Regions from separate parts of the Homo sapiens genome. Here region 1 is linked to region 2. A link means that fine-mapping ties the variant in region 2 to the expression of a gene that starts in the linked region. Tissue or cell type: whole blood. Region 2 holds a variant in brackets; the other region holds the start of a gene. All regions are shown on one strand. Distances are between the middles of the regions.

Region 1 (5,382 bases), 32 kb before region 2:
ATCTGACAAAGGGCTAATATCCAGAATCTACAATGAACTCAAATTTACAAGAAAAAAACAAACAACCCCATCAAAAAGTGGGTAAAGGACATGAACAGACACTTCTCAAAAGAAGACATTTATGCAGCCAAAAGACACATGAAAAAATGCTCATCATCACTGGCCATGAGAGAAATGCAAATCAAAACCACAATGAGATACCATCTCACACCAGTTAGAATGGCGATCATTAAAAAGTCAGGAAACAACAAGTGCTGGAGAGGATGTGGAGAAACAGGAACACTTATACACTGTTGGTGGGACTGTAAACTAGTTCAACCATTGTGGAAGTCAGTGTGGCGATTCCTCAGGGATCTAGAACTAGAAATACCATTTGACCCAGCCATCCCATTACTGGGTATATACCCAAAGGATTATAAATCATGCCGCTATAAAGACACATGCACACGTATGTTTATTGCAGCACTATTCACAATAGCAAAGACTTGGAACCAACCCAAATGTCCAACAATGTGGCACATATACACGATGGAATACTATGCAGCCATAAAAAGGATGAGTTCATGTCCTTTGTAGGGACATGGATGAAGCTGGAAACCATCACTCTCAGCAAACTATAGCAAGGACAAAAAACCAAACACCGCATGTTCTCACTCATAGGTGGGACTTGAACAATGAGAACACACAGACACAGGAAAGGGAACATCGCACACCACGGCCTGTTGTGGGGTGGGGGGAGGGGGAAGAGATAGCATTTGGAGATATATCTAATGTTAAATGACGAGTTACTGGGTGCAGCACACCAACATGGCACATGTATACATAAATAACTAACCTGCACGTTGTGCACATGTACCCTAAAACTTAAAGTATAATAAAATAAAAAATAAAAAAATTTTAAAAACCTGCCTTCTGTTGTTACCAGGTAGCTGCAACAATAGAAGGCCACATATCTCCCCAGATAGCCTCCCTCACAAATTGCTTACAGTGAAATGCCTTGTGGGTCCCTAAATCTTTCAGAATGCATATCCCTCCTATAAATGAGCCCTAAAACACAGTTCTGTTGAATCTCACTCTGACAATAACAGCTCATCTTCATATGTATGGTATAAGGACAAGACTTGGAAATCATCCCTCTGCCCACCCCAAGACAAATTCATAATTGACTTTCCCCCTATTTTCACATTTATCTTATGTAAAATGTAGATTTACTGAGCATGAGAGGAACACATAATCAGTATTCCTCTACCCACTCTTCACACGCAAAATGTGAATTCACTGGGCACTAATCAAAGCCTCACAAGAATGTAACTTCTTCCCTCATTGCCTACCTTCCCATTTCCCTTTTTTTTCTTTCTTTTCTCCTTCCCCTCCTGCTGGCTCTTTCCCCTTTAAATACTGAAGTCCTCAAAAACTCTCTTTGCAAAAGGCACAGATCACAGATGTTCCTGTATTTGTGCTTTCTCCTGGGGAATGTCCTTAACCTTGGCAAAATAAACCTCTAAAACGATTGAGACCTGCCTGTCATTTTTTTGGTGCTTAAAATCCATGATGGAATTTTTAATCACTATTTTAGACTTGGGTAAATCTGGCTGTGAAAGTAGTGACAGAGTCTTTTAGAATTTTCTTCTACCAAAAATAATTAATCAGAAAGTCCCTGAGAGAATTTCAGATACTCCTGTAAGGATCAAACCTAAATTTAAATTAGACTTGTAGATCTGTGCATACCCAGTGTCTCACACATATAAACTCAATAAAAATTTATCGAATGACCAAGTGAAGAAATGTTCTTTCAGCTTTTCCTTCAAGACTCAGAAAAAAGATATCTGCAGTTCCAGAATGGACTGAGTGAACAAGAAAAGAACAGATCAGTGACACAAAGACAGCCTTCTTTTTCCCTTTCAGGGTGACTCAAATTGTAGTCCTCATCTGAACAGTCTGAGACACAACTCTTGTCTCATATTAACTCGATAGGGCATTTGCTATACTCCCATTTACACAAACTGCTCAGATGCCCCAAATGCTGAGTCTGTTCGTCTTCATTTTATTCCTTTGGGAGATGCCGGTACAAACTTGTTTTTTCTTTCTTTTTTTAAATGGAGATGTGACCACCATAGCAACTAAAAGACATAAATCTTGCCTAATTGAATCAGTGTGCTCAAGATAATAGCCAGGGCAGAGACTGAGTTAAAACTGGGGTAAGGGTGAGAGTGGGGAAATGGATGAGGATGATAAAAATATTTATGTCCCTAGAATTTGTGGGTTTGGATTAATTCTGTTTCGTAAGGAATATTGTTGGCCTTCAAATGCAGTGCCACTTGGGAGAGAAGCAAGCGGGCAGTAGTTGAGGTGTCTCTGCAGTTGAATCGCAGTGAAAGGCAGGTTATGAGTATAGGGACCGCCCCTCGGCCATGTGGTCCCCTCCCTATCCTGAGGATAACGACATTTGAGAGAAGCCAATGGTATTGGAAGGCCAGAATCGAACTTAAGCCGCTTAGTTGGTACAACTGTAAACCCTCCCTCACAGAGGCTGGGCCCTGCAATCTTTCTAAGCAGGGTAAAGAAAAGTAAGGGGACTTCCTTTTCGAAGAGGAGGTTCCCGCGTGCTGCACCCGACCTTTCCCTCAGGGCCCAACACGCGTTATATAAATGCCAAGTTACTCAGGGACGCACACGTGAGAAGGCTGGGGCCCGACACACGCGGTGTAGTGCCGAAGTCACCGGTGTGGCGCGCCTGGGGGACACGCCGAAGCCCATTTCCCTCCCGCTTCTGGAAAGCAGTCCCCGCTCTTTCCAGCTGCTCCGCGGGGCGTATGGCTGTGCGCTACCTCCTGCGGACCCCAGGCTGGGCGAGGGGGCAGCGATGGCCACATGGCGCGCTCGGGGAGATGGCAGCTGCGCTTTGTTTCCAGCAGTGATAGGTGAGTCACTGGCTCCCGCAGCCCCAGAGCTGGGCAAACACTCAGGCCCAGGCAGCTGAAAAATTCACAGCAGGAGCAGCTACCGAAGCGACTGCAGCCTCTTCCTCCTCTTCCTCCTCCTCCTCCTCCTCCGCCACTGCTACCGCCACCACCGTGGTAGCCGCCTCCGCGCCCTGCCTCCGCCCCGTCCCCTCCTCCTCCACCCGCGAACTTAGTCAGCGGTTCGCGCCGCCGAGCGCCCATTGGCCAGCGGAACGCGTCGCGTCACAATGGAGCCGGTCGGAGGCGGCGAGCCGGACAGCGCCGGGGCTTCCCGCTGAGCCCGCAGCCTCCGGCAGCCGGGAAAGTGCGGGCGCGGGGCCGCAGCCTGCCCGCCCGGAGCGGCCCAGGAGCACGCCGCGGGGAGCGCGGGCGTCCGGGGCTGGAGTCGCGCAGGTAGGTCGGAGCGTGACACCCCGGTTCCAGGAGGGCGAGCCGCGCCGACCGAGGTGGTGGAGGAGGAGGACCGGATACGGGGACGCAGCAGGTGGGGCTGGCCGAACAGGTGCGGTTACCTGTTCACGCCTCACCTGCGAGCCAGGCTGCGGGCCGGTAGCGCGGCTGCAGAGACGAGTGGCCGCTTCGTTGTGCTCCCTGCCTTCGGGAGAGACGGAGTCCCACGCTGAGAGGACCTCTCCTGTGTGCTGGGGTCATTTGGAGCAAGAGGTGTGGGCGGTCGCGCCGAGACGGTCACCTCTCTTTCCCCCGGGAGTCTCGGCGTTGCACCTGAGCGTGAGTCCTCGGGGCGGGGCGGGAAAGGGGTTCCGCTTTCCCAGGCTGGCGTCTCGCTCCAGATGAGCGCAACTCCCCTGAGGGTGCCCCCATTTGGTCGCTCTGTTTTGCCCCCTGCGCTGGCGCTGTTGGGAACTATTTTATGCTCTTGGGAACTATTTTATGCTGTTGGATACGCGTTGGTTGCCTATAATTTGGTGGTGGTGTTGGGCGTTGATTTGTTTGAGAAAGAAAGGGCAAGCGTTACCAATTTAAGAAGAAGACTCAAGAGTTTCCCCTGAGCTTAGTTGAGCAGGTGCTGAGAGGTCAGAAGGGAGGAGGCTCAGTATTGGCTCATTAATCTGTGTGCTCAACTGACTTCCTAAAGTCCATAGATTGCCTTTAGTTAGATGACATTTGTGGAAAACTTTTTTTTTCTTTGTGGTCAAAAAGACACCCCTCTAAAAGAACAAAACCGACATGTGAACTTCCTTGAATAAATTCACTTCGCCTAAAGACTTCAAACAAACAAACAAAAAAACACTCCACTGGTAAAAGATAACAGTATGAACATTTTAAATTGTAGATATATAGCCAAATTAAAACAGGCAATTTGTTCAGCGTATATTAAGAAGACATTACGTAGCATGATTTTTATTAAAAGACAACCTATTTGCAAATGATATAGTAGTCTTTGCAGAACACCCCAGAAATCTTAAAACAGATTTATCTTTATCAGATGGTTCTGTCCCCTAAACCTAGGTGTAGGAGTGAGGATGGAAAAGAAGTCAAACTGCAGTGTAATTTTTTAAACAATTCCAGTACCCTCTATGTGTACAGGCTACACCTCCTGAGAACCCCAAATGCTCTTTGTTTTGTTTCTTTGTTTTGTTTTGAGACGGAGTCTCACTCTGTCGCCCAGGCTGGAGTGCAGTAGTGCGATCTCGGCTCACTGCAACCTCCACCTCCTGGGTTCAAGTGATTCTCCTGCCTCAGCCTCCCGAGTAGCGGGGACTACAGGGGCCCGCCACCACGCCCAGCTAATTTTTATATTTTTAGTGGTGGCGGGGTTTCACCATGTTGGCCAGGCTGGTCTGAAACTCCTGACCTCAAGTGACCCACCCACCTCGGCCTCCCAAAGTGCTGGGATTACAGGTGTGACCCCAAATGCTCTCTGAATTGTGGGTGCCGAGGTGACTTTCTTTTTCTCCTGGCTTTCCTTGTCAGCAGCTCTACTCAGAGAATATAAAGTGACAGCCAACCCCCAAGGTAATTGGGCCTGTGTAATTTTAGAATATAAGCCCTAACATGTCTGATATTTCTGTAAGCTAAAAAGAGGTCTCTTGAATGGGGGTGATGTTGTCATTGAGTGCACCCTTGGGTCATGGCACTTTCCTTATACTTAGTATCCCCAACAACATTTTTAAATCTGCATGTCGGAATTAAGTTTACCATTCTTTGAAATGTGTTCTCTTTTTCCTCAATTGGTAAGGTGTTCCAACATGTTCAGCCTATTATGAATCTTTTCACATTTTGAATGATTTCATTTGACTAGTTGAGATTTGCTTTTTTAAACCTCTTCTCTACCACTATCACCATTTCCCATTGCTATTTTAATTTTCAGAATCCTCAGAGTGAAAACACCAACAGTAAGTAAAATGAAAAGGGGCTTAATAAAACTTAAAGGATACTAAGCCTTCCAAGTTTTTTA
Region 2 (5,382 bases):
TGCTCAGATACCACCAGTGACTTCCTACTGCTTATATCAAGCCTAAATTCCTCTCTCCTTGTAAAAAGATTTGAATATTCTAAAAGTGACATATTTACCCCCTAAAGCAATAATTTCTCAGGTGCCTGTTATGTTCTGGGCCTGAGTTAAATCTTGAAAATTTTTTAGTGTGGAATTTGAGACTTAATTAGCATTTGATCCTAATCACCTTTCTACTCTTAGCCCCATCATTTCTGTCTCATAAATTCCACTCCATCTATGCATCTGCTCACTAATTCATTAAATTGACCTTGGCTTTCTTTTGCCTTCTTTATTTGTTGTTCCATTCCTCCACATAAAATATTATGTGCCCTGTTATTAACCAACCCCTTTTACCCCTTATTCCTTCACCCCCTAACTATATAAATCTTACGCATCTTTCTTGGTCCAACTCATAAACCCTGTACAGTGACTATTGTTCTTCTAGCATGTATTACTTTAAGATGTAACTGTATAATTCATTTGTTTGATCTTTCTTGTACTTATGCCTTCTTTCACCAATGCATAAGCTCCTTTTGAGATTTAGGTCTGAGTGTGACACCTTTCGATTGCCTTCATTACCTGGGCCAGTTCTTTGCACCCAGCAGAAACTTCATCATGATTGTCGAGTACACCTAGTGTCAGAGCATGTGCAAGATGTAATATTTCCACTTGCTGTTGGTGACACAAGTTGGTGTTACATAAGGCCTTCTTCATTTCTACCTTTCTTCAACTGAGAGTCACAAAGTTGTTGCCTTCCTTAAATGGATAAGACTCTCCACACAATAAAAACAGATGGTATTGTCAAATATAAATAGGTAAATATTATTTTTTGTGCATGGATGAGAGAGAAAAGACAGGAAAAAAACTACACTTGTAGTTTTCTTGGCACAGTCTTTTTGCCCTTCAAATTTGGTTGCTAAGAAATAACCATAGATTCATCTGCTGTGTATAAAGGAGAAACTTAGAGACTCTGTGTGTTGTGCAGCTGATTTTGTCACTCAGCTATGACAGAGCCCCACCCTGATTTAGAAGTCATGTGTCAAACTTCCAGATGGGGAGTATATCTTTTGTCTCCTGGAAAACCATTGAAACTCTGTTTCCAGAGGGCCCATGTTTCTCCTCTTTGCTAAGACCAAGTGAAGCTGCAGAATCCTGCTGAGTTATGAAGCCCGAAGCCAGCCTAATGTGGAGAAATGACCTGTCACCTTTTTTGGAATGTAGGCATTCTATGTGATTCATATTAGTTATTTGTGCGTTATTTTAGAAGAACCTTACTCTATCACTTCAGAGTGCCCAGAGCTGCCCTAACTTATTCTGAATGCTATGGCTGAGCTAAATTCGTCTTCTCTGCTGATGGGGCTCAAATGGAGTCTTTAGTCTCTGCTAAAGGATTCAGGAAGCCTTTCATGTCATGTAGAATTTGGGATGTAAATTGAAGGTAAGAAGGTATGAAGATTGTAAGATATTTTTGCAGTTTTTGCTTCCAAACAAGGAGGTCTAATTAAAACTCTTGTATCTGTTCAATTAATATTTAGTAGCAGCTTCTACAAGCTAAGCCCTGGGGTGCATTGATAAGCATGATACATGTAGACCAGACCTCAGAGAGAAATAAACCTTTAATCAAACAATTACTTATAGGTTTGTGATAAATGTTATGAATGGAAGGGATAGAGAACTACAGGAGCATGTTGTGAAGTGACCTGTCATCATGTCAAGGAGGTGTCCCTTAGGAAATAACTTTCTTAGTCATTGACTCAGGGCATCAGTGACTTAAACGACTGCCTTGTTTTGGCCTTGAAAGCAAGCTTGACCTTTTAAGTGAACTATCTGGCACTGTTTGAAATTGCATCAGCCAGTTGGAATAAGAATTCGCTCTCCTGTGAGACTTTTCTTATACAGCATCATGTTATGTGTGTAATAAAGTCATATTTGGCCTTTGCCCCCATGTCACATCACAGAGCCCCATTCCTGATAAGAGTGTCCTTTGTTATTCATAGCGAGCCCCTGTTAACCATACCTAAGTTTGTTCTAATGTGGTAACTCACTGTAGGCACCTGGGTAGCTTCAGGATGGGGCCTGGTCACCAGAGGATCTAACCATGTGATTCCAGCATTGGAACTTTTACGCCCACCATCAACTTCTGGAAAGGGGAGAGGGACTGGAGATTTTCAGTCACTAACGGCCAATGTTATTTAATCAATGATGCCTACATAATGAAATTTTCATAAAAACCCCTAAACAATGGAGTTCAGGTAGCTTCCAGGTTGGTGAACACATCGAAGTGCTGGGAGGGTGGTGAGGTTGGAAAGAGCAGAGAAGCTCCATCCTCCCACTGCCCTCAAATACCTTGCCTTTTACATCTCTTCCATTTGGCTGTTCCTGAGTTGTATCCTTTATAATAAATCAATAAAGGTAAGTAAAGTGTTTTCCTGAGTTCTATGAGTTACTCTAGTAAATTATCAAATTTGAAGAGAGCGTTATGGGAACCCCCAAATTTATAGTCAAGTCAAACAGAAGTACAGGCAGCCTGGATTCCTGGGACTTGTGATTGAGTTTGAAGCAGAGGCAGTCTTGTAGAATGGAGCCCTTAAACCTGTGGAGTCTGATGCTAACTCTGAGTAGTTAATGTCAGAATAGGATTGAATTTTAGGACACCCAGTTGGTGTTACAGGGAGTGATATCAGAAAAAAAGACATCTCACTCTGCATTTACCCTAAATGTAAACCAGACATTCTCCCTCTCCAGCTGAGGAGCAAATGGCAACCAGTGATTTTGACTACCAGCAGCCATTAACCAAGTTACAAATATGAAGCATTAATTTAACACCAAGGTAAAAATGGACATTTTACCTGAATCATAAGTGACATAAGAGCTTGCTCTTTCAAAACAGACTGGTTTCTTTCTGAATGCTCTTGCCCAATGCTTCATTCCCCACACCTTCCTCCATGGAAAATAGGAGCTGGAACAGATAAGCAGTGTTGGCTGACTGGAATCTTTTAAAAAGCCTTCTCTGGGTTGGGCAGTTAGGCGTGTGCACTCCATTGGCACAGTGAGCCAGAGATTGTGCGCATTCTGTTTTTGTCTTTTTCCAAATCCCCAGTTGACAGACATTAAGGGATCCATTATCATTCCATTATTGCAAGGCAGATTTGGAGAAGAATTTTCTACTGAGATGGTTGTTTTGTCACAGTGAAACAAATGAGTGACATTCTATGTTTGGGCCACATAGTTCTTCTGAACCCCTGGGCCTCAATGCCTTTTTTGAAGCGTTCTTTTTGACTTCACA[G/A]TAGGACCCAAATATGATGAAATGTCAATGTCTTTGCAACACTTGCTATTTTGTTTCCCTGGAACCACAGTGGCATAAATAAAGCTCACTTCCTGGGTTGTTTTTTTCAAAGATACCATCCCAAGGCCAAAAGCATCCTCTTTTTAAATCACTTTGCTAGTAAAAGAATTAGGTTTCTTTATAAGAGTTCTCTTTTGCATCTGTTTGCTACTGCAATGATTTCAGAGTGCTTCCATGATATTTATTTTACCACTAATATCAATTCTTGAGCCAGTGTGATTATCTGTATTTTAAAGCTGAGGAGATGGAGGCCTGTATTTAGTGAGTGATTTAAGCCCATGCAGATGATGGTGGAGGCAGGCCTGGGACTCAGTCCAGTGTTCATTTTCCACACTGCTGCCATGGAAAACCAGCCCCTGCTTCTCACTCTCACTAGTGCGAGGAGCGGAGAAACAAAATGAGACTGTACTCAGTCAGCAGCAGATACATAAAAGTTTCCTAATTTTTATTTATATGTTTTTCCTAATTTTTATTTATGTGTTTTTATGTTGTGTGTTCCCCTGCTACGGCTTGGGGAACATTGAAATTAGGAAATTTATACTTACCTAAAACAGCTCTAGAACATTTACACAGTAACAGATCAGCAAGTAGAGCAATTACTCTAACATGTGCAGGGTTGACTCTCACAGCAGTGACTGCTGCTGACCAGTAAGTCAAGAAAACTTCTGTAAAAATGCCTAGTATCTGTAAGCATAGACACCAGTGAAGTATAGATAGAAATAAAGCCAGAGACTTAAAAAAAAATCCCTTGCCATCACAGCAGGGTTCCAAACTGATTGGAATCCATGAGACAGGCAGCATGATAAAGCAAGAGGTGGCCATAGCTAACTGTGAGGCTGAGTGAGTGCCCACAGCGAGTCACAGGGTGAAGCATCCTGTTGTCATGTTTGCACTGTTGTCAAGTGATCAGTGATCACTGTGATCACAGAATTCATAATCCAGTCTGCCCTGCATTTTGGGGTCAAACTTAGCACTCCTGGGAAGGAAACAGCAAGAGCCAATAAAACAGAAAGCAAGAGAAGCTGGAGATCACCACTCTTTCCCCTCACTTCCCATTGGCAAGCCTCCCCAACCCTCCCTGAGACATCACTTTGTCTTTATAATAACAAAGCAACAAGTCAAGAGGTGACATGTTTTAGAAAGAGCTCTCTGACTGCAGTATGGAAATGGGACTAAGGAGGGCAAGAAAGGAGGCAATTTCAGAGTCGTCCAGCCCAAAGATGACATGGGCCCCATCCAAGACAGTGGTAGCAAGATTGTAGAAGGGGCTAGTTTAAGAGACCATTGGATTTGAGGGAATAGAGGAAGAGAAAGTTTCTGGGTTAGGTGCCTGCCTTAGTCTGTTTGTGCTGCTGTAACAAAACACCTAAAACTGGGTAATTTATAAGTAACGTAAATGTATTCCTCACAGCTCTGGAGACTGGAAGGTCCAAGATCAAGATACTACAGATTTGATTTCTGGACGTTGAACATGGTGTAGGAGTAGAAAAGCAACAGGGACGGAAGGAGAGAACTTACCCCTTCAAGCCCTTTTATAAGGCACTAAATCCCATCATTGAGGGCAGAGTCCTCATAGCCTAATCACCTCCTAAATGCTCCATTTCTTAATATTGTTGCACTGAGGATTAAGCTTCAACATGAATTCTGAAGAGGACACAAACATCCAAACCATAGCAGTCAATGCCTTAGCCCTTGATGTTGCTATCAACCTGAGATTCGGGGATCAAGGAAGGACAGGTATGATATCTAGGTGTGGGAGGAAACGGTAGATGCAGTTTGGGACATGCTGTTTGAGTTGCTTCCACACATCTCGGTATATAGCCAGGAAGATGTTGGGGAGATGATTCTGCAGCTTGGGGTTAGGGAGCTGGGCTCACCATATACACAGAGGTGGCGGATGAAACCTTAAGCATAATGCTCAGGATGTCACCCGAGCATAGCATATGTGTGAGTAGAGAAGCTACAGGCCCAAGACTGAACCCCAATGCTTAAGGGATAAGCTAGTATTAGGAACC

Which allele goes with the higher level. Positions count from the first base shown, and alleles are read on the strand shown. Sizes are in standard deviations (SD) of each study's normalised expression.
In carriers of allele A in region 2, the expression in whole blood of the gene that starts at base 3,163 in region 1 tends to be higher than with G alone (moderate effect, 0.69 SD a copy in GTEx).

What was found.
Region 1: it holds the start of LRRC8B, and the variant in region 2 is fine-mapped to the expression of LRRC8B in whole blood (TOPMed, PIP above 0.99). The same link has a PIP of 0.9 or more in blood mononuclear cells and monocytes.

Annotation. Positions count from the first base shown.
Region 1 is chr1:89,521,667-89,527,048 of GRCh38, forward strand. LRRC8B (leucine rich repeat containing 8 VRAC subunit B) reads left to right here and starts at 3,163. Exons shown (of 6, transcript NM_001369817.2): 1 at 3,163-3,356. RefSeq lists a silencer at 3,027-3,486 and enhancers at 4,188-4,689, 4,690-5,191.
Region 2 is chr1:89,553,933-89,559,314 of GRCh38, forward strand. All of the region lies in intron 1 of LRRC8B (leucine rich repeat containing 8 VRAC subunit B), which reads left to right. Among named protein-coding and RNA genes, the nearest start is that of LRRC8B, 32 kb to the left of the region's middle. The variant G/A (reference allele first, on the strand shown) is at 3,308.